Regions from separate parts of the Homo sapiens genome. Here all the other regions are linked to region 1. The links come from fine-mapping of genetic effects on gene expression. A gene starts in region 1. Each other region holds a variant in brackets. All regions are shown on one strand. Distances are between the middles of the regions. Region 1 holds the start of NUDT2 (nudix hydrolase 2). Region 2 overlaps UBAP1 (ubiquitin associated protein 1). Region 3 overlaps FAM219A (family with sequence similarity 219 member A). Region 4 has its middle 76 kb from the start of PTENP1-AS. Region 5 overlaps FAM219A (family with sequence similarity 219 member A). Region 6 overlaps UBAP1 (ubiquitin associated protein 1). Region 7 has its middle 16 kb from the start of MYORG.

Region 1 (4,099 bases):
AGAACATAGCTGCTGTACTGAACTTTTTCACTCCTTTTATTAAGGCCACCAGTGAGCTATGAATTTGATATAAGGAGCAATCACACCAACAATCAGGCTGTGAATATATAATCCATGAGTTAACAACGAAACAGTCTTAGGAACGCAATTCTATCATAGACACCTGATGAATAGATGGAGTTCACCTGAGCAGCTGTTATATGCACTTCAATAGAGAGACTACAAAGCCTCTCTACTTGTAGAATACAAGTACAAAGAAGATGCTTTAAAACATTTTCCAAAGCACACTTAAAATGTGACAATAGCTGCCGGTCACTAAGAAGCTAAAGGGAGATAAATTATCTTGGCATACAGCAACAGAATGGTTTATTTTAAGCAAAGACTAAAAGGAGTCTAATAAAATTATTGGGAGACCAAGGCTAAAAGCCACAGATGCAGGAAGAGTTGCAGCAACCAATCCAAAAAAGTTTAGCCTTTCACAAAGAGTAGAAAGGCCAGCTGTGGACTGTGTGTGGACTTTTAGGTCCTTTTGCATTGAAGATTAGGGTGGCCTCCCCCTAGCCTCGAAATAAAAAATCGTCTCTGAAGCAGAGAGACAACAAGGCAGGGCATGAAGAGGAATCCAATCTATTTCTTGTAAATTAAATTCAACTCAACAAATATTTCCTGAAAATCTACTATGTGCAAGACATTGTGAACGATGCTTGCCTTACCTCAAAGGCTTCAAAATTTTATGGGAAAAGGGAAGCGAACGGGCTTCCCGGAAGTAAACAACCCAAGGGCGAATAGAAATGCCCTAAAAGAGGTGCCGGTCAGGCTTATCGGTTCAAAAGCAAGAAGGCTTTGGGACTCAAGAGTTTAGTCTCCCAAAGTGAGAGAAGTGGCGTTCAAGATAATTGCTGAAGAAAAGGCAGAGATATGGGGATGAAAGATAGGAAAGTAGGTGAACTTTAGGAAGAGCCAAGAGGGGCCAACTCTCGGTTCCCTCACAACTGCCAGTTTCCTCCCGCGCTCAGCCGACGTCACGCGCACCCGTGTCCGCGGGCAGGCGCCACGGTTCCGGACCAGACCTACCCCTCCTCTATTCTCCCCGCCCTTTCTCACCTCGGTCCAAACTCCTCGGTCTGCCCTGTCTGAGAAGAGGAGAAGACAATGCCGTCGGGAGTGAGCCCCAAAGCCCGCAACCTAACAGTCCCGTCAACCCGGGAGCCACCGGCGGCGGCCAGGCCGCATCTCCATGGCAACGCCGCCAAGCGCCAGTTCGAACGCCCGCGCTGTGGCCCGCGCGTCGCCAGTCCCGCACCGCCCACCAATGGGCATCCAAGGAATCGGTTGACGTTCGTTGACTTCTCCTCTGGAAGACCAATCAGAGGTCTGAAGAAACCGTGGGCGTAACTCTCAATTTCCGACCTTCAGCCAATCGTTCCGCTTGAGGGAAGATCTCGCGACGTTTCAGTGTGAGACGCGCACCTTTGAGGCGGGTCGAAGATCCTTCTGCCGAATTCTATTGATGGGCCCAAGCGTAACCAGGCTCTTCTGATTGGCCGGTGTACTTCAGTTTCCGTCCAAGGTCCGCCTCCTACCTCCTTCTGCTTCGGGTGAGTACCCTTAAGGGCCCACTTGATTTTAGTTCTCAGTGGAGGAAATGAGCCTTGGAGCGATGGGAATCTGCCTCTGGCAAACCTCTGGTCGCTGCAGGGCCCGAGAGGGATGCGCCCTCCTCTAAGTTGGCAGTGAGGTGTGGGCAGGCCAGGTCCCATCCGCTCTCAGGACCTCAGTTTTCCTGTCTGCACCGGGAGAAGGGAGGTTCCCTGACTCTGAGCCTTGCTTGTCCCCGTCGGAGTGGGGATAGGGTGGGTCGTCCAAATCCCAGAGGCGGGAGAGGTCCAGGTTTAGGGCCCAGAGGCCCAGGCGCCGAACCTTCCCCTCCCTGGGCCTCAGTTTCACTTGTTGCTACCCATTAAACCCCGCCTGCTTTCCAAAAGAGATTTTATGTTTTCTAATTGCTTCAGTTATTGAATGGATAATATCGTGGCAGTTATAGCAGAAGTAAAGAAAGTCGAACAAGAGCCCCACCGCCTTAAACAAACAAACAAAAAAGGGACAGCGTAAACAATGCAGGCCGGGTGCGGTGGCTCACGCCTGTAATCCCAGCATTTTGGGAGGCCAAGGCGGGCGGATCACGAGGTCAGGAGATCGAGACCATCCTGGCTAACACGGTGAAACCCCGTCTCTACTAAACAAAATACAAAAGTTAGCCAGGCGTCGTGGCGGGCACGTATAGTCCCTGCTACTCGGGAGGCTGAGGCAGGAGAATGGCATGAACCCAGGAGGCGGAGCTTGCAGTGAGCGGAGGTCGCGCCACTGCACTCCAGCCTGGGCGACAGAGCGAGACTCCGTCTCAAAAACAAAACAAAACAAAAAAAAACTGAATGCAATCAAATTGTCAAATGTAAAACGCTATTATAGAGTTAAGGTTAAGATCATTGATGTTAGGAGTCAGGCAGACCTACATTTGAGTCACTTACCCAGACATCTCTGAGCTATAGTTCCCTTTCTACTCTTCTGAAAAATGGCAGTAATGCCTCAGCGGGTTGTTGTGAAGATTAAGTGAAATAATGAAGGTAAAGCACTTGACACAACGCCTGGCGAGTAGTAACTTCTTAAAAAATGGTAGCGGCCGGGCGCGGTGGCTCACGCCTGTAATCCTAGCCCTTTGGGAGGCCGAGGCGGGCGGATCACGAGGTCAGGAGATCGAGACCATCCTGGCTGACACGGTGAAACCCCGTCTCTACTAAAAACACAAAAAATTAGCCGGGCGTGGTGGCGGGCGCCTGTGGTCCCAGCTACTCGGGAGGCTGAGGCAGGAGAATGGCACGAACCCGGGAGGCGGAGTTTGCAGAGAGCAGAGATCGCACCACTGCACTCCAGCCTGGGCGACAGAGGGAGACTCCGTCTCAAAAAAAAAAAGGTAGCTATTATTCTTATAATAAGAACAGGCAAATACACTAGTCAGTGCGTTGGTGTACTTTTTGTAACTGAGTACCCAATTTTGCCCAAAATTAGTCAGTTAAGGGAAAAAAGGTAATTCTTACTAATAAGGAAACAAATCCATTCTTCAAAAGATAAATTATTTTTCTAGTTTCTATATTAAAAGGAATTTATGCTGTGGGACCTTATAAGGAATATATATACTGTGGTGAACAGTGTTGAGCAGTTTAACAGACAAGATGAAAAGTCATTTCTTTAAAACAGAGAAGCTTTTTGATGATCTTTTATGACACACGGGTAACAGTAACTCATATATTTAGTACCTCTGATAATGTCAGACCCTCTATATATGTCATTTATAAACTCCACAACAACCATGCAAAGTAGGTGTTAACTTCATTTTACAAATGAGGAAGTTAAGTATCTTGCTCTAAGTATCTTGCTCTATTAACTTCAATAGCTAGGCCTTTCTGACTGCATAGACAGCCATGCTTTTCTGTGTTTCTGACTAAAGGAGGATGAAAATGCTTGGAATACCAGACAGATGCAGGGGCAGGTTGGACAGCTTGACTTACCTAAATTGGAGGGAATGTGAGCTGCAGAGGTACCTATGGTAGGAGCAATATCTTGCTCTAATAGAAAATTTTCACCGTGGTCTTGGTAGAGAAGGGAGGAGAAAAAAATTGTTTTAATAAAAATAATTTTAAAAAAGTAAATTCCCACCTTGGGAAATGAAGAGATAGGATGAGATGATCACTGAACTTTAGACCCATCTGTTCATTTATCTTATGGATAGACTATAGCACTTCAAATTCAACTTGTCCCAAACAAATGCTTCACTTGCACCCCCTCCTCCACCCAGGCACTCAAACCAAAGCCTTTCTCTTTCCCTTGGCTTATGAAACATCTCTCTGTCCCTTAGACAATGAAATATCACTATTGTCCATTTTACTTTGAAATATCTCTCAGATTCATCCCTTCCTTTCCTTTCTCACAGCCTCTGCCTTGATCTAACTGGAATCATTTGTTAACTGGTCTGTTGCAATAGACTTGTAACTGGTTAATCTCTCTGCCTCCAATCTGTCCTAATTCGTTCCCCAGCTTGCTT
Region 2 (4,000 bases), 120 kb before region 1:
TTTTGGGCTCAGGAGTTTGAGGCTGCAGTGAGCAATGTTCATGCCACTTCACTCCAACCTGGGCTGTTCAGAGCAAGACCCTGTCTCTAAAAACAAGGATCAACAAAAATTAAATATGCTTTCATTTCTGGTTCTTTTTTCTCTTTTCTCTGTCAGTTTTTGGTATCAGTGTTATGCTGATCTCATACGAGAACTTGGAATTCAGCAACATTCATTCAGCAGGAGTTACTGAGCACTACTGTGGCCGGGCACTATGCTTGGTGTAATGGTGAATGAGACAGAAGTGGTATTTGTCCTCGTAGTGCATAAAGGCAAGTGGGGAAGACAGACAATAAACAAATCCTGAATAAATTGATAAGCTACAAATATATATTTGTTTCCATTTTATGTGTTGGAATAGATTAAATAAAATAGGAATAATCTGTTTCTTAAATATTTAATAGAACTTTAAAGACATCTGTTCTGACATTTATTTTAGCATACACATATTTCATAAGCATGTGAAATTACTTAAGAACCCCTTTTCTCTCCCCATAAATCTTTGACACCGTGTGAAGTTGTTCCATCCTTATATTGTTTTTCCTTTAGGCCTACAGTGTTCCCCTGGGGATTTGAGTTTTCAAGTTTTGTGAACAAGGCTGTATTATTTCTGTGGGAAAAATCATTCAGGTTTCACATGATGGAAACAGAATGATACAATCCACTGAGTTTGAAGACTCCAGGAAGAACAAAAAATTATATTTGCAATTACTTATTTCAGGTCAAATTAATAGCTTCTAGTATGATAACTTTTTTTTGTTTTAAAATTAACCAGTTAAGAGACTGGGCGTGGTGGTTCATGCCTGCAATCCCAGAGCTTTAGGAGGCCACAGTGGGTGGATCAGTTGAGGTCAGGAGTTTGAGACCAGCCTAGGCAACGTGGTGAAATCCTGTCTCTACTAAAAATACAAAAATTAGCTGGGTGTGATGGCCCACGCCTGTAATCCCAGCTACTCGGGAGGCTAAGGCACAAGAATCTTGCTGCTGCACTCCAGAGTGCAGACGACAGAGCAAGACTCTGTCTCAAGACAACAACAACAAAAAACTGACCAGTTAGTATTGTATTAGTTACTTGTAGAGGAAAATAGTATCAAATAGTAAGGATTTTCTTATAAAAAACAAAAAAAGGGTGTGGATTGTATATACTTGCTGAGTCAAGTATACTTGTCTTTCTGAGTCAAGTAAGTATACACAGTCCACACCCATTTTTTTTTTTGAAGAAAACACCCGTTTGTTTTTATGTGCCCTCAGAATTAAGATGAAGTCTTGTGCTATCTTTTTAATATGTATAAGACTAGAAAAACCAGTGAAATTCATAGTTAGAAAATAATCTATCTCTAGTCCTTTAATTCTGGAAAGAATTCCAGAGATCATTTACTCCAGTAGTAGTCTTGTTTTATGGAAGAAGCCCTAAAAGTTCTTTTTTTTTAAATTTCAGAGGTTTTTACCCATTCTACAAGTCTTTTAATTGCCTCAGGTGCTCTTGTCTTTCTTGCCTTCTGGTATGAATTGTGATATGATTTTTGGAGTTGGGAAGGAAATTATATTTTTGGTTCAATAACTTGTTGACATTATTTTTTTGCCAACCAGTCTTTATTCAGTTGCAAGAATTAAATTGATAGGTTCGTGGTCAGATTTCCTCTTGAGGACACTGCACTGAACTCTCTGAAGAAAATACTTTAAATAAATTGTAATGAATTGGTTAAGATGCTGACTTGAAATTTCTGATTGGCTAATGCTTTAATTTTTATTTTTTTTGAGACAAGTTCTCACTCTGTTACCCAGAGTGAGAGTGCAGGCTGGAGTGCAGTGGCGCCATCACTGTTCACTGCAGCTTCGACCTCCCCAGGCTCAGGTGGTCCCCTGCCTCAACCTCCTGAGTAGCTGGGACTACAGGTGTGTGCCACCACACCTGGCCAGTTTTTGTATTTTTTGTAGAGACAGGTTGTCACTATGTTGCTCAGGCTAGTCTTGAACTCCTGGGCTCAAGTGATCTTCCAGTCTCCCAAAGTGCTGGGATTACAGGCCTGAGCAGTCACACCCAGCCCTGGCTAATGCTTTGAAGTCATGACTCCCATTCTGATTTTTAACTAGTCATTACTTTCCTGTTCTTCCATTATGGTAGTCTCACAAGACTTATAATTTCAGACTTTTTATTGGTAACTACAAGAGATTATTGTTTTAGCTTTTTCATTTTAAAGATATTGTTTTGTCTAGTTGTATTCTGAAATTACATGTTAGGTATAATTATTAGTTGTACAATTAGCTATTAAATTTTCAGAAAGTTTGAAGGGAGA[G/A]AGTAAGTGAAAAGCCACTCCTGCTAAAGATTAGACACTGTACTAGATGCTTGGAGGATTAAGAGGAGACCAGAGCTAAGGGAAATCTTTGTCTGGATTTTATTGACCCATTTTGGAATTAGCTGCAGATCTTAAGAAATCAGATTGGGTTGGCAGGACGTGGTGGCTCATGTCTGTAATCTCAGCACTTTGGGAGGCTGAGGCGGGAGGATCACGAGGTCAAGAGATTGAGACCAGCCTGGCCAACATGGTGAAACCCCGTCTCTACTAAAAATACAAAAATTAGCCAGGTGTGGTGGCGGGCACCTGTAGTCCCAGCTACTCAGGAGGCTGAGACAGGAGAATGGCATGAACCCCGGAGGTGGAGGTTTCAGTGAGCCAAGATCGTGCCACTGCACTCCAGCCTGGTGACAGAGCGAGACTCCGTCTCAAAAAACAAACAAACAAAAAACAGTTTGGGTCAATAATTTGCGTTTACAGTACTAGTTTATGTACTTATTTGTCACTTTGTAATTTTTAGGGAGTTGCTTTTCAACTGTAATCTGTTTTTATTAAACTATTTGAAATGAGCTTTGTATTCAGTCACTAGTTGTGTTTCTCCCTTCCAAGTACTAACCAGGCTCAACCCTGCTTCTGAGATCAGACAAGATCAGGAGCGTTCAGGGTGGTTTGGTTGTAGACACTAATTGCTTTGCTTATAAGCCTTAAGGATACCTTACAATTAATAACTTTGGTAAAACCTCATTTGAAAAATAAGACTAAGCCTGAGCCAAACGGCAAAATCCCATCTCTACAAAAAATTAGCCGAGCATGGTGTTGGGTGCCTGTGGTCCCAGCTACTCAGGAGGCTGAGGTGGGAGGATCACTTGAGCTCGGGAGGTTGAGGCTGCAGTGAGTCAAGATTGTGCCACTGCATTCCAGCATGGGTGACAGAGTGAGACCCTGTCTCAAAAAAAAGAAAAGAAAAAAGTAAGACTAAAATCAGTTAGTGACAAAACTTATGTATTACAGCATCTTGACTTAAAAAAAAAACAAACCAAAACCCTTCATTTTCCGAGTTTTTCATAAGCCAGGTATTTTCTTAAATTTGAAGTCTTAGAAACTTAGGTTATTTTGGCTCGCTAGCTGTATGTGTAGAGTGAAAATAGTATTTCTACATTTGGTCAGTTGCATAATGTTACTATACCTTTGATCCATCTGGAATTTATCTTGGTATGCAGTGTGAAGCAAGCATCGGATTCTGCTTTTTTCTAGGTGACTACCCAGTTGTCCCATGACTTGATTTTAAAAAGCAGCTTTATTATATACCAAATGTTTATATTTTGGGTATTTTTAGGGATTTCTACTTTGTTCCACTAATCTGTATTTGTACCAGTACGACACAGCTTTCAGTATTGTATCTTCTAATATTTTAATATCTGATAGGCTAGTCTCCATTTTCTTCGGAGATTTTTTCTTTTTTTTCTGCGTTTGCTTAATTGTTATTTCTTTTTTTTTTTTTTTTTTTTGAGATGGAATTTTGCTCTTGTCGCCCAGGCTGGAGTGCAATGGTGTGAGCTCAGCTCACTGCAACCTCTGCCTCCCAGGTTTAAGTGATTCTCCTGCCTCAGCCTCTGGAGTGGGTTAGGATTACGGGCTCCCGCCACAGCTAATTTTTGTATTTT
Region 3 (4,099 bases), 79 kb after region 1:
TCTCGAACTCCTGACCTCATGATCCGCCTGCCTCAGCCTCCCAAAGTGCTAGGATTACAGGCATGAGCCACCATACCTTGCTAAGAGTCCTTATCTAGCCTTGCCATCCCCTCCCAAACACCCTCCTCTGCTGCAAGATCCAGGGCCGTGCAAGTGGCTGAAGTCATCCACATTCTCCCTGAGACTCTGAGGACCAAATATTGACAGGGGTGCTGCCATCCTAGCTATAGGATGGGGGTCTGGCTTCCCTTTAATAAGAGTAGATTCACCTTTATTTCATTTATATATCAGCCTGTTGCAACATTTTGGTTGGAGAAAAGGTTCTATTTTTTAAAAAAGGTTAAAATCTTTTGATTTTAAATGTTTAAAAATGTTTTATTATGGAAATTATAACAAGTAGAGAAAACAGTATAGTGAGATCATAGGTACCTATCAACAGCTTCAACAAATATCAACTTATCACCCATTCTTTTTAAAAATGAGGAAACCTGGGCCGAGAGGGGAAGTGTCTTACGCAAAGTCAGTGATGGAGTCAATAACCTTTCAAAGCATGCAGGGAGGGACATAGGGAAGAGAACATGATTTGGGCTTGGAGTTAAAGACAGGCCCTCTGGGAGGCTGCTCCATTCTTGCAGGCCCAAGCATCAGTCTGCATATTAACCTCTTCCCTTGTCTTTGCATTTTAACCAGGGCCTGTAGATTGCTAAGCCTAAGGTGCGAGGAGTGCAGAGGGGATCCAAGGCTGCTGCCTGTTCTGCCTTTGCGGATGCAGGGAGTAGACAGATGGGCATGTAGAATGCTGCCACAGTGTCAGGCCCAGGGATCTGAGTGGTTGCTGGTGACCTGGCAAGGGAAGGATATATAACCATTATGGTGGCTTCTGTTCCCTTTAAAATGAGGCAGTGGGCATGAAAACATGCTTGTCACTAACGGGAAAGGGAAAAGTCTAGCAGGTTTGAGAGGGAAATCCTGGCCTTGTCTGTGTTCCTTCAGGCCATCCAGAGCACAAGGCTCTGGGTGGGTTGTGTTGCCACAGTGGTTTGCAAGTTCCTGAGGGCAAAACCTGTGCCTCCCTCTCCTGCTTTGATCCCTAGCCCTTAGCCTTGACTGAGTAGAAGAAGGGCAGGAGGCTTTGCTCAGAGAGGCTGGGTGCCGCAGTGCCTGCATCTTGGGCAACTTCCCATGCTTCAAGTCCTTCATCCTCCCTGGCTCAGCAACCTCCTTGAGAGACTAATAGACAGCACCTGTCCTGCACAGCCTTGGAAAAGCAAACCTCTAGTGGCCCTGACATGCCTCTCTGCAGCCAAAACAGCCTCTCAGCAGCTGCTACCTGCAAGGGAGGTGGAGATGGGACAGCTGGGCTCTGGATTTCCTGTGAGCCCCAGAGACTGCTCACTGCAAAGCAGCCAGAGGGAAGGCTTTTTAAAGGGCAAATCCCATAAACATGCTGATAGGACCCTACCAGGGCAGCACTGGCACATTTCTAAGTCCCAAGTCACATTCCTTCACTTTTTTGGTAGCATTCGTCACATGTCACATATACCACATCCATTTGGAAAAGGCTTCCTCCCTTGGCTCATCTCTTGCCTCTTTGACTATCATTTCTCTGTCCTCCCACAACCCTTTGCCTCCTCTGTAGGGTCCTGCCCTTGGCCCTCCTCTCTCTCCTTGGGGAGCCCTGATGTCTCCTATAGTTCTGATTGGCATTTTTACACTGATGACTTCTAAATCTGTGGCGTTTCAATCCTGCTTCTCCTCCTTAACCTTCTAACCCATCTATCACATGAGAGTGTTAGGCCTCACCATCCTTTCCCTGGGGCTGATTTTTAAAAACACAATCCGTTAGACATTTGGAGCTAACTTTTTACTCCTCAGTGCAGATGAGTTCATCAAAGTTTCTTCTCTCAGTCTGGAGGTACTGGGTATAAATGGTAACATGGGAGGTAGATTTCACAGGAAGGACAGGGCTAGAAAGCTGTTGAGCAACTCTGGTCACAGGGACTCACATGTGGTCCTTGAGGCCTACTGGGCAGTTCCTGATGGTATTTGATCCTGGATGAAACTGCCAGCTCCTTTGGACCACAATTCAGGAGGGCCTGACCAGGGGGCAGAGCCCTAGGCTGAGGGGTCCCATGCAAAGCCCACCATTCAGCATCTCCTCCATCACTATCCATGACAGAAGGCCACCTTAGTGGCAAGCACAAAGATCTCTGGCACTGTGCCTGCAAACATAAGCCTTTACTATGAGCTTCCTCTATGTCTTCCCTTAGAAATGCAGCCAATGCACCACAACCATTGCATGGCAATGTAATCAGGGAGATTAAATGTAAAATATTCATGAATGTAAGTATCAGAAAAGACTCCAGGCAGAAGGAAGTGCCTGGCTCCAAGAAATCAGGGA[G/A]AATTTAAAGTGCCCCCCAAGGACATCTGAAGGCGTTAGCTAGATCCGGGAACTAGAGTGGAGATTAACAAGATTATTAATAAACACTCAGCAGAGACAGACATTGAAATGCATCTCTAACAGCAGCCCATGTTTCTGCAACCCTTCAAATAAATTCTCTGAAGACTACAGAGATGATTAATAGCCCAGCCTCACTGTTTCTGGGACAGGATATATAGGCTAATGGCTAGTGCAAAGCCAATATAGCTAGAGGAAGGCAAAAGCATCAGAAGAATCCTTAGAATTATAATAGTTTGGTCCACTGATTTTCATTAAACTGTGTTCCCTGAGTGACTGTGAAGGGGAAGCTATAGGATGTGGGTCTGGTTTCCCTTTAATAAGAGTAGATTCACCTTTATTTCATTTATATATCAGCCTGTTGCAACTTTTTGGTTGGAGAAAAGGTTCTATTTTTTAAAAAAGGTTGAAATCTTTTGATTTTAAATGTTTAAAAATGTTTTATTGTGGAAATTATAACAAGTAGAGAAAATAGTATAGTGAGATCATAGGTACCTATCAACAGCTTCAACAAATATCATCACCCATTCTTTTTAAAAATGAGGAAACCTGGGCCGAGAGGGGAAGTGTCTTACCCAAAGTCAGTGATGGAGTCAATAACCTTTCAAAGCATGCAGGGAGGGACATAGGGAAGAGAACATGATTTGGGCTTGGAGCTAAAGACAGGCCCTCTGGGAGGCTGCTCCATTCCTGCAGGCCCAAGCATCAGTCTGCATATTAACCTCTTCCCTTGTCCCCCTGCCCCAGGGCTGTACCAACTCATGAACTGTCTTTAGCTGGCTGGCCTCACTTGTTGGAGCTGTGGGTAGTGCAGTCAATACAATGGTAGGCTGGGACCCAAGAGATCCCAAATAAGCAGGATAAAATTGGGTGGTAAAAAAGGGAAACAAATGAAAAAAACCAAAGTGTGGAACCTTCAAGGCTCATGCCTGGAGTCTTAAGAAGGAGGATCTGGATAAGTAGATGGAAGAGTCTGCTTTCCTGAATGACCCGCAGACTTTTATGGGCTACTCTGGTAGGACTCTAGGTGGCAAAAAATAAAACTTGTAGAGGGTCTTGTAGTTCCTAATGTATGTCTTCAGATCCACGAGCTTATCTGATTCTCATAAGTACCCAGTAGACATGTGATTGCCTCCCCAACATTCAAATTATACTCCTCCTCCACTGGGCAACAGACATATGGCTTGGATGGGCTGACCTCACTCTCAGTGCCAAGGGGATGCTCTGACTAAAGGAAGACAATCTACACAATCCCATCCTCCTTGCCACACAGACTGAAAGAAAGATTGTAATGGTTAAAAGCACAGACTCTGGAGCCAGAGTGCCTAGGTTCAAATTCCAGCTCCTCCAGTTAGTAGCTGTACAATCTGGGTTTCAGCTTCCTCATCTATAAATGGGACTAACACTAATACCTAGTTCAAGGGTTCTTGTGAGGATGAAAGGAGTTAATATGTATTAAAGCAGTTAGAATAGTCCTTAGCATAGTATACCCTTAGCACTATATCCATGTTAACTGTAAAGATATCATTAGTATAGGTTCAGTGAGGCCTATACTATCATGGTCAGTGTGCCCTGGGAGTGGCTGGCCTGTAGCTGTAGCCCTGACACCACATAGGTTGGAGCCTGGCTTATATATGAAGG
Region 4 (4,099 bases), 730 kb before region 1:
CTTAGAGTGAGCAGGATCAGTCAGTGCCCTGAAGGTAGAGCTAAGAGACTGTCCTTGCTGTGTGGGAGGCTGGTCTAGGGATGGAGGACTTAACAGGTCCTCCCAGTCTGTCAGGCCTAGACAGTATTGTCCTGTCTCAGGACTCAGAAAGTCCAGTCCTGAGATGGGACAGTGCTCCCCAGGGTGGGTGGCCAGGGCCTGACAGCAGTCCCCCAGGGAGTGACCACATCACCCAGCCGGGGTCCAGGGAGCCTGGCCTGAGACCTGCCTAGTGCATTGAGGTTGCACCTGGAGCCCACTCCAACTGATGCCCCCACAGCCCTCACAGGGTCTGACCTCCCAGCATGCACCTGCCTCTCCCTGCACCCCAGATGTCCACCCTACCTGTTCCCTGACTTCCTCCATCCTGTCCAGCAGGATGGGCTGGACAGTGGGACAGCCTTTGTGCACATTTTGTGGCAAGTAGGAGTGACACACCATCCCTGGGAGGCACCATGGTTCCTGCCAAACCCAACCCCAGAACTCTGTCCCTGAGGTGGTTTTACCAAAACCCAAAACCCAGAACTATGGTCGTGGCTCAGGGGTCAGCACCTGCTAGTACCAGGACACTACTGGGAGGCTGGGACCTGACTGAAGCCCATGATGTCTGTGGCCTGAGGACAGGGTATGTTGGGGCCATAAGGTCTGGCCACCAATGGCCATTGGGTCCTAGGGCCTCAGTCCCAGTGTTTGCCCTTCCCTGGCTCCTTCTGGTTCAGTCCCATTAGGGCCCTGGAGCCCAAGACCCAGCACCCAAGGTCCCCTCCAGGAATCCTGGCAGCTTGGCTTCCTTTATCATGTTTCATCTGAGAGCAAAAATGTCAGATCGCCCCCCCTCTCCCTCTCCCTCTCCCTCTCCCTCTCCCTCTCCCTCTCCTCCCTCTCCCTCTCCCTCTCCCTCTCCCCATGGTCTCCCTCTCCCTCTCTTTCCACGGTCTCCCTCTGATGCCGAGCCAAAGCTGGACTGTACTGCCGCCATCTCGGCTCACTGCAACCTCCCTGCCTGATTCTCCTGCCTCAGCCTGCCGAGTGCCTGCGATTGCAGGCGCGCGCCGCCACGCCTGACTGGTTTTCCTATTTTTTTGGTGGAGACGGGGTTTCGCTGTGTTGGCCGGGCTGGTCTCCAGCTCCTAACCGCGAGTGATCCACCAGCCTCGGCCTCCCAAGGTGCTGGGATTGCAGACGGAGTCTCGTTCACTCAGTGCTCAATGGTGCCCAGGCTGGAGTGCAGTGGCGTGATCTCGGCTCGCTACAACCTCCACCTCCCAGCCGCCTGCCTTGGCCTCCCAAAGTGCTGAGATTGCAGCCTCTGCCCGGCCGCCACCCCATCTGGGAAGTGAGGAGCGTCTCTGCCTGGCCGCCCATCGTCTGGGATGTGAGGAGCCCCTCTGCCTGGCTGCCCAGTCTGGAAAGTGAGGAGCATCTCTGCCCGGCCGCCATCCCATCTAGGAAGTGAGGAGTGCCTCTACCCGGCCGCCATCCCATCTAGGAAGTGAGGAGCGTCTCTGCCCGGCCGCCCATCGTCTGAGATGTGGGGAGCACCTCTGCCCCACCGCCCCGTCTGGGATGTGAGGAGCGCCTCTGCCCGGCCGTGACCCC[A/G]TCCGGGAGGTGAGGAGCGTCTCTGCCCGGCCGCCCCGTCTGAGAAGTGAGGAGACCCTCGGCCTGGCAGCCGCCCCGTCTGAGAAGTGAGGAGCGTCACCGCCTGGCAGCCACCTCGTCTGGGAAGTGAGGAGCCCCTCCGCCCGGCAGCCACCCCGTCCGAGAGGGAGGTGGGAGTCAGCCCCCGGCAGGCCAGCCGCCCCATCCGGGAGGGAGTGGGGGGCCAGCCCCCCGCCCGGCCAGCCGCCCCGTCCGGGAGGTGAGGGGCGCCTCTGCCCGGCCGCCCCTACTGGGAAGTGAGGAGCCCCTCTGCCCGGCCACCACCCCGTCTGGGAGGTGTACCCAACAGCTCATTGAGAACGGGCCATGATGACAATGGCGGTTTTGTGGAATAGAAAAGGGGGAAAGGTGTGGAAAAGATTGAGAAATCGGATGGTTGCTGTGTCTGTGTAGAAAGAAGTAGACATGGGAGACTTTTCATTTTGTTCTGTACTAAGAAAAATTCTTCTGCCTTGGGATCCTGTTGATCTATGACCTTACCCCCAACCCTGAGCTCTCTGAAACATGTGCTGTGTCCACTCAGGGTTAAATGGATTAAGGGCGGTGCAAGATGTGCTTTGTTAAACAGATGCTTGAAGGCAGCATGCTCATTAAGAGTCATCACCACTCCCTACTCTTAAGTACCCAGGGACACAAACACTGCGGAAGGCCGCAGGGTCCTCTGCCTAGGAAAACCAGAGACCTTTGTTCACTTGTTTATCTGCTGACCTTCCCTCCACTATTGTCCTATGACCCTGCCAAATCCCCCTCTGCGAGAAACACCCAAGAATGATCAATAAAAAATAAAAAAAAAGTCAGATTGGATGCACAGAAAAATGGCCCAAATTGTTTAATGACTAGAAGAAATATAGGAGCAGCAAGAATGTGATGTGAAGAGGGGAGGGCCTCCATGACCGGTGTCTGCAGAGCCAGGGGTACAGGCACCCAGTGTTGTGGCCTGGCACCACTGGCCTCTCAGAGGGTGGGTAGCACACTGTCCTTACCCGGAGGACAGCAGGCCTGATCACCAGCTTTTCTACCTGTCCCTGTAAGCATCACGTTGCTAGAAGAAAATCTCATGCCAGAGCTTGGACCATCCCTAGCTCAGAGGTTAGGGGTTGTCTCTTGGTGACCTACATGAAAAAATAGGTCCAGATCAGAGTTCCTGATGCAGAGCACTCATCCACTCTTTCAATCGTTGGAGGAGAGGCCTGGTTTTAGGTAAACCTAACCTCTTTGAGGAACCACAGAGCCCAAGACTGGAAACCTTCAGAATCTGCTGGCCCCCAACCCTCCCTGGGGACCCCTGTGGCCTGTCTCACCAGAGCACTCTTCTGTCTGTAGATGTCTCAGCGGCTCTACAAGGGAGTCCCATTTCAGGTGTGGGGCTGGGCATGGTCACTCCTGCTGGATGTCTAGAAGATGGAAACTAAGGACCTAGGAAAATGCCAGATACAGCCTTTCCACCCTCATCCAGAGCAGGACAAACAGGCCAGGTGGTGTCAGGAGCCCAGGTCTCCAGCTGGAGGGAACGTCAACCCTGCAGTGGGAGCAGGGGCCCATCGCACATCCTAGGCACAGATGCTAATGTAGGCACTGCAGGTAAGCTGGGCTTGGTACCCTTCCCTGGCTTCAGAAAGAAGCCAACAAGGAGCGTTTTGCAGAATGAAACCTCTTTTCCATCCAGAAGCACTGCTGACTGTAGGTGGTTGCCGTTTGTGGCAGTGAGCATTTTGTCCATTCTGAGGTTGGATTGGTTTCTTCTTTTGGCCTTGCCCTGCCCTACAGACCATAAAGGAGAACAGCAAGAGGCCCCCAGCAAACATCCACAGATGGCCCTGGACATCAGCCACATTCTGAGAAACATGTCATGTTCTGGGAGGGCTAAGGCATCAAGTTAGGCCTACGGGGCTGGATGATCCCAGGCAACGTGGGGCAATCCAGAGCCATGGGGGCTTTCCATGGGAATTGGGAGGTCCCAAGGCAGAGTCAGAGGTTCCACAGGAGGAGTCACAGAGTCACCAAGGGCTCTCCTGGCCCAGGGAGCAGTCAACACCATGGACTGAACACCTGCTGGGCTCCAAGCCCTGGGCCAGGCTGCCCATGTGGGGCCAGGAGGCAGCTCAGAGTGGGAGGCAGAGAAGTGTGCTCAGAGGGCACCTGTATCTGGATGTAATGTGGTCCTGAGACTGGCTGGGAAGTGCTTCCAGGGTATCATATGTGTTATGCAGTTACTTCCTCTCCCCAGCCTTACCCTGTAGGAATTCTAGTGACTATGTTGCCACCATCTTGGAGCTCCATGCCCTCATAGTGTAATGGCACCAGCAGATCTGCCTGTGCATGGACTTCCTGTACTACCTCACTCCTGAGGGGAGATGTTTCTGCAGGGCCTATGACCTGGTGCACAACTTTAGACACCATC
Region 5 (4,099 bases), 94 kb after region 1:
ATCCAGTCATTTAGTTAATGTTGCTTAAATACCTGCCAGAGGTACGGCCATGGTGCTAAGTGCTTTATCTATATTATTTCATTGAATCCTCCCCAAAACCAAGTAAGGCAAATATCATTTTCATTTTAAAATTGAAGAACTAGGTTGCATAAAGTAATATGTCCAAAGTCACACCTGGTAGGCAATTTGAATCTAATTTCCTCATCTCTCTTACCCCAGCCCCTTCTCAGAGACTTAGATAAAGTCATGAGATTAACAACGTACCAGAACTTACACCTCTGTGGGACTGTTGTCTTGCAAAGCAGTCACTTGGAAGGCTGGTACCTAGTTCAATCATGTCTCTGGAGCTCAACACAAACTTGTAGCCCCTCTTTAGAAAATAGCATGGATGCTTTCTGATCACAAGCTTCCTGCTCAATTGAGTTCTCCACAGGAAGGAAATATTGGAGCCACTGAAGCAGTCGATAGCTCAAGATGGAGAGAGAGACTGGCAGGAAGCAACAAGAAAGAAAATGCGTTGGAAACTGAGAATGGTGAGCCCAGGAGACAAAAGAAGAGGGCAGTGCAAGAAAAGGAGATGAAAGGGGCCTTAGCCACCAAATTCAGTTCTGGTCCTACATTTTAAGGGCATCTATATTCTAGGCACTGTGCTGGGTTCTGGACATATAAAAATAATATGGGCTGGGCGCGGTGGCTCACACCTGTAATCCCAGCACTTTGGAAGGCCGAAGTGGAAGGATTGCTTGAGCCCAGGAGTTTGAGACCAGCCTGGGCAACATAGTAGGACTCCATTTCTACAGAAAAATTAAAGAAAATTAGCCCGGCATGGTGGCACGTGTCTGTAGTCCTAGCTACTCAGAAGGCTGAGGTGGGAGGATCACTTGAGCCTGGGAGGTTGAGGCTGTAGTGAGCCATGATTGCACAGAGCGACAGAGTGAGACCCCTTCTTCTAAATAATAATAACAATAATAAGGCCCCTGCCCATGAAGAGCTCATAAGCCAGTGAGTGAAGCAAGTGAATAAGCAGATAATTTTAATCATATGCTGAGTGCTATGACAGAGGTTTGTATGTGTACAGGACAGAGGCAACTATCCCACTCTGGGGAATTAGGGAGGACTTCTCCAAAGAAAACTGATGGAGGAAGCAAGAATAGGAAGTATTAGTGAACCAGATGAGGAAAGGAGTGGCAAACAAAAAGAAAAAAGAAGAGAAAGGACTGGTGGGAAAGATGCACATGACTATAGAGCAGGCAAAAAGAACAGGTCAATTTTACTAGAATGTTAATGTTAGGGGACGAAGTGGCAGGTGATGAGTCTAGAATGACAGGAAGACTTAAAATCATGAAGGGCTTTGTAAGATATGTTCAGGGTTTTGGACTTCACCTGGAAATAATGGGGAGCCACTGAAGGATTTTCAGCCCATTGTCAGATTTAGATAGACTGACTGCTCTGGGAGCAGGTCCAAGGAATAGGCAGGAATGATTAAACTGGAGGCAGGGAGGCTAGATAAAGGTCATTGCAGTAGGTGACAAAGCTTGAAAAAGTCAGTGTCAGTGGGGTTGGAAAAAAGGAGGTGGAGAAGAAAAACATGTTGAGGTCAAACCGCTGGGGCACTAAGGCTGACTGGATCTGGGTTTGAGGGAAAAGACTTGAGCTAGGATGACTCCCAGGTTTCCTCCTGACTCAGGTGACTGCGTGAATTGTGATGCCACCAAATAAGATGGAGAAACAGAAATAAGAGTAAGGCTTGTGGTTTTGTTTTGTGTGTAAATATGTGTATGTTTATAAATAAGAAGGGCTTAGAGAAAAAAAATTAAGGAACACCAATATTGAAAAAGTAAGCAGAAGACTGACAGCTACGGTCAGAGGGGTAGGGAACCAAGAAGAGAT[C/G]AGAGTCATGGATGTCTAGGAAAGGCAGAGTTTTGAGAAGAATAATGTAAGACAGAGGAACCAGAACCGGAGTCCTAGAGGGGCTCTTGTATGACAAGAGAGACTGGAAAATAGTTGAGGCCGGGAGAAAGAACCAGCATAGAATGGCCACTTGTTTGAAGACATGAGGGAGGACTCAAGATGCTGTTCTCAGGCTTGCTGATATTTCAGCAAAAACTTATTTTGTTCTAAGAAATTATGGGTCTGATTCTTGTGAGGCTTGCAAGTCCTCACCGAGAGACATTCTCTAGTAGAAAAGTCCAGTCACGGTCCAGAGATCATGGCACATTTGCTATCTTTTAGGAAGTGTGGGCAAGGGGTGGGCTGAAGGCAAGGGAGGCTGACCAGGGCTTGGCCAAACTAGAGGCAATAGTAAGCAGTTAGGTGGGTAGTCGCCCCAAATTCTGGCTGCACCAGAGTCCCCTGACTTAGTTTTGGCCTATCGTCCCCAGGCTATGGCAAAAAGCAGCAAAGACCCTTGACTTCTAGTCCTTGAGGCAGGGGGCCAAAGCCAACACGGACCTACCAGGAGTGGCCTGAGAATCCAGAACACAGAGAGGAGCAGCCTGCGTTGCGATTTTCCCAGAACCCACAACACTTGTTCCACCAACAGTGAACATCCAGAGGGAGGCTCAACCATGGAACCTATACTCTGTTATGTGGTAATCATGCTTTCTCACCTTTTTGTTTTTTGAAATAGGGTCTCACTCTGTCACTCAGGCTGGAGTGCAATGGCACGACCTCAGGTCACTGCAATCTCCACCTCAGCTCAAGCAACCTGCCACCTTAGCCTCCCGAGGAACTAGGACTACAGGTGTGTACCACCACACCCAGCTAATTTTTTGTAGTTTTGGTAGAGATGGGGTTTTGCCATGTTGCCCAGGCTTGTCTCAGACTCCTGAGCTCAAGCGATCTACCCCCTCGGCCTCCCAAAGTGCTGGAATTACAGGCATGAGCCACCGCGCCCAGCCCTTTCTCACTTTTATTATTATTATTCCTTATGCCTAGTCAAAACTTTCTCACATTTAAACCCTTCAATAATAGTTTTCTGTAAAAATAAACAAATGAGGCCCACAGTGGCTCATACCTGTAATCCAGCACTTTGGGGGGCCAAGGCAGGCAGATCACCTGAGGTCAGGAGTTTGAGACCAGCCTGGCCAACATGGTGCAACCCCGTCTCTACCAAAAATACAAAAATTAGCTGGACATGGTGGTGGGTGCCTGTAATCCCAGCTACTCGGGAGGCTGAGGCAGGAGAATCTCATGAACCTGGGAGGCGGAGGTTGCAGTGAGCCGAGATCGTGCCACTGCACTCCAGCCTGGGCAACAAGAACAAAACTCTGTCTTAAATAAATAAATAAAATAAACAAATGAATAAATAAAAATAATCACTTGACTTAATTATTAGTCTTCAGAGCCAGTAATGTAGTCAGTAACCTGCATGCCTCCACTGTGCTTGGAGAAGTTGAAAAATGTGCAGTTAGTGTTAAGGGGAGATCCTTGTTCTTCTGTCTCCTGCATGCAAACACTGACACCTATGAGTGAGTGGGCAGTGCACTGAGGTGCAGGAAAGCCAGGCTCACACGAGGGCAGAGGACTGGCAGCCTCAATGAGGTTAGACTGACTTTTCCCAAAACTCTGACCTTGCGGACCTACTGCATTATTTAAAAAAAAAATCATATTCTGGGAAAGAACAGCCTGTGCTTGGCTATTTACAAAAGTAGGTCTGTGAATGCTGTTAGAGTTGAATGAATGTTTTATGCTATTTGGTGCATTTTAAGTAACCCAATAGGCTGAAATATTTTTGTTGTGAAGGGAATGCTTGTTCTGTACAATTAAATTTGGTTAGAATTAGAAACTCCAAAATTCCTTTGTTCCTATCAGGGGAGCAATAGTTTGTCTTCACCTACTCTGCAACCTTGTGGCTGTCAGAGGGTTAGTTATAAGGCCTTCACATCTGGGCTTCACAGAAGCACAGAATAGCCATTCAAGGAGTATTTTGGCTTTTATATGGACACCTAATTTCACAGGCAGTAGGATCCTGAATTTTTTATATAATGACTTTCACTCTTTCCACCACTCCCTTCTATTTTACACTCCAATGAAAACATCCCGAATGTTGAAACATCAGTGATTTTGTCCTGTTCCTATGTTTAGGAGAGGAATTTTC
Region 6 (4,000 bases), 110 kb before region 1:
AAAAGTCACATGATCATCTCAATAGATGCAGAAAAAGCATTTGACAAAATCCAGCATCCCTTTATGATTAGAACTCTCAGCAAAATCAGCATACGAGGGACATACCTCAATGTAATGAAAGCCATCTCTGGGCCAGGTGCAGTGGCTCACATCACACCTGTAATCCCAGCACTTTGGGAGGCCGAGGCAGGTGGATTACCTGAGGTCAGGAGTTTGAGACCAGCCTGGCCAACATGGTGAAACCCCGTCTCATCTAAAAATACAAAAATTAGCTCGGCATGGTGGCAGGCGCTTGCAATCCCAGCTACTCAGGAGACTGAGACAGGAGAATCGCTTGAACCCAGGAGGTGGAAGTTGCAGTGAGCCGAGATCGCACCATTGCACTCCAGCATGGGCGACAGAGCGAGACTCTGTCTCAAAAACAAAAACAAAAAAACCCAACCATCTATGACACACCTACAGCCAACCTAATACTGAATGGGGAAAAGTGGAAAGCATTACCTGTGAGAACTAGAACAAGACAAGGATGCCTGTTCTCACCACTCCTCTTCAACATAGTACTGGAAGTCCTAGCCAGAACATTCAGACAAGGGAAAGAAAGAAAGGGCATCCAAACTGGTAAAGAGGAAGTCAAACTGTCACTGTTTGCTGACAATATGATCGTTTACCTTGAAAACCCTAAAGCCTCCTCCAGAAAGCTCCTAGAACTGATAAAAGAATTCAGCAAAGTTTCTGGATACAAGATTAATGTACACAAATCAGAAGCTCTTCTATACACCAACAGTGACCAAGCAGAGAATCAAATAAAAAACTCAACCCCTTTTACAACAGCTGCAAAAAAAAAAAATACTTAGGAATATACCTAACTAAGGAGTCAAAAGACCTCTACAAGGAAAACTACAAAACACTGCTGAAAGAAATCATAGATGGCACAAACAAATGGAAGCACATCCCATGCTCATGGATGGGTAGAATCAATATTGTGAAAATGACCATACTGCCAAAAGCAATCTACAAATTCAATGTAATCCCCATCAAAATACCACCATCATTCTTCACAGAATTAGAAACAACATTTCTAAAATTCATATGGAACAAAAAAAGAACCTGCATAGCCAAAGCAAGACTAAGCAAAGAGAACAAATCTGGAGGCATCACACTACCTGATTTCAAACTATACTATAAGGCCATAGTCACCAAAACAGCACGGTACTGGTATAAAAATAGGCACACAGACCAATGGAACAGAATAGAGAACCCAGAAATAAACCCAAATACTTACAGCCAATTGATCTTCGACAAAGCAAACAAAAACATAAAGTGGGGAAAGGATACCCTTTTTAACAATAGCACTGGGATAATTGGCTGGCCATATGTAGGACAATGAAACTGGATCCTATACAAGATAGATTAAGGACTTAACGACCTGAAGCTATAAAAAATTCTAGAAGGTATCATTGGAAAAACCCTTCTAGACATTGGCTTAGGCGAGGATTTCATGACCAAGAACCCAAAAGCAAATGCAATAAAAACAAAGATAAATAGCTGGGACCCAATTAAGCTAAAGAGCTTTTGCACAGTAAAAGGAATAGTCAGCAGAGTAAACAGACAACCCACAGAGTGGGAGAAAATCTTCATAATGTATACATCTGACAAAGGACTGATATCCAGAATCTACAACCAACTCAGTAAGAAAAAAACAATCCCATCAAAAAGTGGGCTAAGGACATGAATAGACAGTTCTCAAAAGAGGATATACAGATGGCCAACAAACATGAAAAATGCCCAACATCACTAATGATCAGGGAAGTGCACATCAAAACCACAATGTGATACCACCTTACTCCTGCAAGAATGGCCATAATAAAAAAATAAAAAAACAGTAGATGTTGGCGTGGATGCAGTGATCAGGCAACACATTTACACTGCTGTGGGAATGTAAACTAGTACAGCCACTCTGGAAAACAGTGTGGAGATTCCTTAAAGAACTAAGAGTAGAACTACCATTTGATCCAGCAGTCCCACTACTGGATATCTACCCAGAGGAAAAGAAGTCATTTGAAAAAGATGCTTGCACATGTATGTTTATAGCAGCACAATTCACAAGTGTAAAATCATGGAAGCAACCCAAATGCCTATCAACGAATGGATAAACTGCTGTGTGTATATATGTATATATGATAGTGTGTGTGTGTGTATATATATGTATATAAGTATGTATATATGTGTCATATATATATATATATGATGGAATACTGCTCAGCTGTAAAAAGGAATGAATTAGCATTTGCAGTGACTTGGATGAGATTGGAGACTGTTCTAAGTAAAGTAACTCAGGAATGGAAAACCAAACATCTAATGTTCTCACTGATAGGTGAAAGCTAAGCT[A/C]TGAGGACGCAAAGGCATAAGAATGATACAGTGGACTTTGGTGACCTGGGGGGAAGGGTTGGAGGGGGGTGAGGGATAAAAGACCACAAATAGGGTGCAGCGTATACTGCTCGGGTGATGGGTGCACCGAAATCTCACAAATCACCACTAAGGAACTTATGTAACTGAATACCACCTGTACCCCAATAACTTATGGAAAAATAAATAATAAAAAAAGGGTTTAAAAAAGTATAGGAAGTTATTGGTGAAACGTGTGTACATATATATATGTACACACACACACACACATACATGTATGTACATATATATAAAAGATGTTCTGGGGGAAGAAAACTGACCCTAAATAGGTATTAAAATGCCTTTGAGCTTTGAGAGACTGAAGTTTTGCTGCATAGTGGACCTTAGAAAAATCTTTATGTGCCCAAATATAGATTTCTCATATTCTTAAGGACTGTGGAAAATAATATATAATATGGGAAAAAAATATTTTATCAGCTCTATTGAGGCATGATTTAAAAAATTTTACATTATTTACTAATAAAGAGAACTGTATTTTATTTTTCATTTACTATTCCTTGTGGTCTTCTATCTAGTTGTTCACTGCCTCATTGCCTCTCTGATTTTCAAACTTGGAAGTTATTGACACGCGTCTTTCTGGCCCTCTCCTCTGGAGCACCTCTCTGCTGCCAATTTTTTTCTGCCATTTTTTTTTTTGTAATTTAATTTAAAAAAAAACTTACTGAGGTGAAATTCACATAGCATGAAATTAACCATGTTAAAATGATCAATTTAGTGGCATTTAGTACTCTCATAGTGTTGTGTAATCACCATATCTGGTTCTGAAACCTTTCCTTCACTCCAAAGGAGACCCTTACCAACTACACAGTTTCTCTTTCCCAGACCCAGGCAACCGCCAGTCTGCTTTCAGTCTCTTTGGATTTTCCCTTTCTGGACACCTCATATGAATGGCATCACACAATATTTGTGAACTTTTATGTCTTCTTTTTTTTATTTTAAATTTTTTTTAGAGCTGGGGTCTCACTCTGTTGCCCAGGCTGCAGTGCAGTGGTGCGATCATAGCTCACTGCAGCCTTTTACCACCTGGACTCAAGTGAACCTGATTAGCTGGGACTACAGGCATGCACCACCACACCATGCTAATTTTTTTTTTTTTTTTTTTTTTTTTTTTGAGACTGGCTCTCTTGCCCAAGCTGGAGTGCAGTGGCTTAATCATGGCTCACGGCAACCTTTGCCTCCTGGGCTCAAGCCATCCTCCCACCTCAGCCTCCCAAGTAGCTGGGACTACAGGTGCGTACCACCATGCTCGGCTAATGTTTGTATGTTTAGTAGAGATGGGGTTTGGCCATATTACCCAGGGTGGTCTCAAACTCCTGAGCTCTAGTTAATTTTGAAATATAGAATATATTATTGTTAACTGTAGTCACCTTACTGTACAATAGAATACCAGAACTTATTCTTCCTATGTGATGGTAACTTTAATCATTCATCAACTTCTCCCCATCCCACTCCCTGCCCTTCCCTTTACTACCCTCCCCACCTCTCCGGCCTCTGGTAATTACTATTATACTCTCTACTCTTTTGGGAAGGGTGT
Region 7 (4,075 bases), 30 kb after region 1:
GAATAATGCTTCAGTGAACATAGGATTGTAGATATCTCTTCAACATACTGATTTCATTTCCTTTGGCTATATACCCAGAAGTGGGATTGCTGGATCATCTGGTAGTTCTATTTTTAACTTTTTAAGAAATCTTCATACTGTTTTCCATAATGTGTTTCTTCTTTTTTGTGATAGGTGTTTACAGCTATAAATCTCCCTCTAAATACTGCTTTCACTGCCTTACATAAGTTTTAGTATATTTTCATTTTCACTTATCTTGAAGTATTTTTTCTTTTTTTTTTTTTTTTTTGAGATAGAGTCTCACTCTGTCGCCCAGGCTAGAGTGTAGTGGCATGATCACAGCTCACTGCAACCTCTGCTCCCCGGGTTCAAACAATTCTCTGCCTCAGCCTCCCGAGTAGCTGGAATTACAGGTGCCCACCACCATGCCTGGCTAATTTTTGTATTTTTAGTAGAGACAGGGTTTCACCATCTTGGCTAGGTTGGTCTTGAACTCCTGACCTCAGGTGATCCACCCGCGTCAGCCTCCCAAAGTGCTGGGATTACAGGCATGAGCCACCGCACCTGGCCTATCTCAAAGTATTTTTAAATTTCTCTTGTGATTTATTCTCTGATCACTGGTTATTCAGGAGTCTGTTGTTTAAATTCCACACATTTGTTAATTTCTCCAACTTCCTTCTGTTATTAATTTCTAATTTTATTCCATTGTGACTATGGAATATACTTTGTATGATTTCAGTCCTTTTAAATGCATTGAGACTTGTTTTATGGAATAATAGATTATCTACCTTGGAGAATGTTCCATGTGCTCTTGAGAAGAATATATATTCTGTTGTTGCTCATGGAGTATACTATAGATGTATTAGGTCTGGCTGGTTTGTATTGTTCAAATATTCTATTTCCTTGTTGATCTTCTGTCTAGTTGTTCTATGTATTATTGAAAGTGGGGTACGGAAATCTCCAACTATTATTGTTTTTTTTTTTTTTTGCCATGGAAAAACCCTCTTATTTATTTGATTAAACAAAAATAAAATAAGCTGCATAGGAACAATTTTAAAGTCCACAGAGACACCAACCTTGTTTTAGGGCTGCAGTAGTTGATATAGCATCTCCGCTGCCTTCTCCAGCCTACTCTGTGGACCACAGCAATACATTCAAAAGCCTGTTAGCTAACGCAGGTGTTTTTGAACACTTTTCCATTGGCTCTTCACCTGCTTATTGCCTGTCATACCTGCAGCCTGCAATCATAGCATTTAAGATTTAAAGGTGAAAGCCAAAAGAAAAACAAACAAAAACTCACTTTTGCCTAAAGCTTTGGGGGAAATGTTGATTTCCCCACCCATCCAGTGAATTGACAGAATTCACACCACCATGGCAATATCCAGTTAAAAGAGGCAAAAGGCAGTCAGCACCCCAGAGGAACTTACAGCATGGTTTCTGCAGCCGGAGGAGTTGTTTTGGTAGTACGTCGTCCTTGAATCATGTCTGCCTTGGACAAATAAAAATTAAGAGGTTTAACTTAATCATTCTAACATAGGCAACATGCCCATGTTAATCCCCCCAATTCTGCATTTACTTTTTTTCTTAAAAAAAAAAAATAAACTCAACTGAATCATATCTTCTGCAGTTAAAAATTGAAGCACTAGGCTGGGCGCGGTGGCTCAGGCCTGTAATCCCAGCACTTTGGGAGGCCAAGGCGGGCAGATCACAAGGTCAGGAGATTGAGACCATCCTGGCCAACATGGTCTTTTTTTACTACTAAAAGTATAAAAAAATTAGCTGGGCAAGGTAGCGCATGCCTGTACTCCCAGCTACTTGGGAGGCTGAGGCAGGAGAATATCTTGAACCCAGGAAGTGGAGGTTGCAGTGAGCTGAGATCACGTCACTGCACTCCAGCTTGGCTACAGAGTGAGTCTCTGTCTTAAAAAATAAAAATAAATAAATAAATAAATAAATAAAGCACTAGCTACTTGGGAGGTTGAGGTGGGAGGATCTCTTGAGCCCAGGAGGTCAAGGCTACAGTGAGCCATGATCACACCACTGCACTCCAGCCTC[G/A]GCAACATAACAAGATAAATAATAACAAATAAATAATAACAAGTAAATAAACAAATAAATAAAGCATTTTGCCAATATAGCTCAAGGTCTAATGGACAGTATTAAGCAAGATTCTAAAAAAATACTAACAACCGTCCCATCCACCCAAGTATACCTAACATGCTACTGAAAAACAACAGCCCTTACCAACCCACCTGCATTGATCTCAGGAGAAAAGGAAAAAAGAATGAAATCTTACCACCCTAAAAACAAGATAACCCCAGGAAAAATATTTCTCTGAAGAAAGACAACTACAGAGACTGCTAGAAACATAAAGAATGATTACAGAGCTGGTTATTTAAAGCAAGTAAACACTTTGCTACACACATTAACATTCAGTCAGTGTGCTCTAAGACAGTCTTAAGGAAAACAGTACCTGAGCTTGTAAGTTAATACAATCATTAAAAGAAGGTCTAAGATCATGTGGATACACAAAACCTTCAGAACCATTACTGGTTAAGTGATGATGGCAAACATCCCACCAGGCTGGCTTGTTAACCCATAAGATGAATTTTAAAAACAGACATACTTGAGGTGTCTCTTCACCATGGTATTTATAAGCCAAACTCATGATAATGACAATGGTTTTGGACCCTCCTCTCTTCTAACCAAACCAAAAATTAACTAGGGAAGAAAAGAGGCAGGAGGGCCAATACGGTATATTCTGGTAATGTGCCTCTCAACTTCATCAAGTATTTAATAAACAAGTAAAGGGAAAAAACAACCCATCAACGTGTTATTTTGGTAGAAAAAAATTAAAACACAAAACAAAAGAGCAACACACACTTCATCAGTCATTGCTCAGTAAAAACGGTGATTGTCCAATATTATTGTTATTTATATATATGTATATATATGTGTATATGTATGTATGTGTATGTATATATATATGTTTATGTATATATTTTTTTGTTTGTTTGTTTTTGTTTTTGTTTTTGAGATGAAGTCTTGCTCTGTTGCCCAGGCTGGAGTACAATGGAGCGATCTTGGCTAACTGCAACCTCCGCCTCCCGGGTTCAAGCGATTCTCCTGCCTCAGCCTCCTGAGTAGCTGGGATTACAGGCACCCACCACCACGCCCAGCTGATTTTTGTATTTTTAGTAGAGATGGGGTTTCACCATATTGGTCAGGCTGGTCTCGAACTCCTGACTTAGTGATCTGCCCACCTTGGGCTCCCAAAGTGCTGGGATTACAAGCATGAGCCACCGCGCCACCGCACCCAGCCCCTTTTCTTTTTTATAATAGCGATGGGGTCTCACCATATTGCCTAGGCTGATCTTGAAGTCCTGGGCTCAAGCAATCCTCCCACTTCAGCCTCCCAAAGTGCTAGGATTACAGGTGTGAGCCACTGCGCCTGGCTGTTGTTATTGAAATGTCTAGTCTGCCTTCAATTCTAACAGTTTTTGCTGTATGTATCTTTGGACTTTTTGTTTCACCCAACTTTTATGCTAAAAGTAGAGTTAGACTAAATCATAATTGATCATTGAAGTCCATTAAAAGTGGGTCAAATTATATGTGTTACACTATTTAAAATCTTGCTTATCATTGTATATCACTTTTTAAATAGAATGTAATTTATTTTGTGGCCAGGCGCAGTGGCTCATGCCTGTAATCCTATAACTTTGGGAGGCTGAGGCAGGTGGATTGCCTAAGCTCAGGAGTTCGAGATCACCCTGGGCAACATAGTGAAACCCTGTCTCTGCTAAAATACAAAAAATTAGCTAAGTGTGTTGGTGCGCACCTGTAGTCCCAGCTACTCGGGAGGCTGAAGCATGAGAATCATTTGAGCCCGGGAGGCAGAGGTTGCAGTGAGCTGAGATCACGCCACTGCATTCCAGCCTGGGTGACAGAACAAGACTGTCTCAGAAAAAAAAAAAAAAAAATAATTTATTTTGTGCTTTTGATTTTTTCTAGAAATTTACTTATACGAAAAGAACTATTTATTTGTTTTAAAGAGATGGAGTCTTACTATATTAGCCAG

What was found.
Region 2: its variant is fine-mapped to the expression of NUDT2 in whole blood (INTERVAL, PIP above 0.99).
Region 3: its variant is fine-mapped to the expression of NUDT2 in anterior cingulate cortex (GTEx, PIP 0.96).
Region 4: its variant is fine-mapped to the expression of NUDT2 in hypothalamus (GTEx, PIP 0.98).
Region 5: its variant is fine-mapped to the expression of NUDT2 in whole blood (TOPMed, PIP above 0.99).
Region 6: its variant is fine-mapped to the expression of NUDT2 in sigmoid colon (GTEx, PIP 0.94).
Region 7: its variant is fine-mapped to the expression of NUDT2 in sun-exposed skin (GTEx, PIP above 0.99). The same link has a PIP of 0.9 or more in gastroesophageal junction and left ventricle.

The regions. Positions count from the first base shown.
Region 1 is chr9:34,328,002-34,332,100 of GRCh38, forward strand. NUDT2 (nudix hydrolase 2) reads left to right here and starts at 1,568. Exons shown (of 5, transcript NM_001161.5): 1 at 1,568-1,598. KIF24 (kinesin family member 24) reads right to left here and starts at 1,267. Exons shown (of 13, transcript NM_194313.4): 1 at 1,105-1,267. RefSeq lists enhancers at 934-993, 1,094-1,193, 1,281-1,788, 1,324-1,513.
Region 2 is chr9:34,203,225-34,207,224 of GRCh38, forward strand. The region is part of intron 1 of UBAP1 (ubiquitin associated protein 1); the gene reads left to right. It also overlaps the pseudogene RNA5SP282. Among named protein-coding and RNA genes, the nearest start is that of UBAP1, 26 kb to the left of the region's middle. The variant G/A (reference allele first, on the strand shown) is at 2,337.
Region 3 is chr9:34,407,019-34,411,117 of GRCh38, forward strand. All of the region lies in intron 1 of FAM219A (family with sequence similarity 219 member A), which reads right to left. Among named protein-coding and RNA genes, the nearest start is that of SPMIP6, 11 kb to the left of the region's middle. The variant G/A (reference allele first, on the strand shown) is at 2,402.
Region 4 is chr9:33,599,347-33,603,445 of GRCh38, forward strand. It overlaps the pseudogene CYP4F26P. Among named protein-coding and RNA genes, the nearest start is that of PTENP1-AS, 76 kb to the right of the region's middle. RefSeq lists an enhancer at 668-1,608. The variant A/G (reference allele first, on the strand shown) is at 1,639.
Region 5 is chr9:34,422,205-34,426,303 of GRCh38, forward strand. All of the region lies in intron 1 of FAM219A (family with sequence similarity 219 member A), which reads right to left. LOC124902145 (a long non-coding RNA gene) reads left to right here. Exons shown (of 3, transcript XR_007061465.1): 2 at 434-533; 3 at 2,382-2,641. Among named protein-coding and RNA genes, the nearest start is that of SPMIP6, 26 kb to the left of the region's middle. The variant C/G (reference allele first, on the strand shown) is at 1,891.
Region 6 is chr9:34,213,094-34,217,093 of GRCh38, forward strand. All of the region lies in intron 1 of UBAP1 (ubiquitin associated protein 1), which reads left to right. Among named protein-coding and RNA genes, the nearest start is that of UBAP1, 36 kb to the left of the region's middle. The variant A/C (reference allele first, on the strand shown) is at 2,389.
Region 7 is chr9:34,358,434-34,362,508 of GRCh38, forward strand. No RefSeq gene overlaps it. Among named protein-coding and RNA genes, the nearest start is that of MYORG, 16 kb to the right of the region's middle. The variant G/A (reference allele first, on the strand shown) is at 2,056.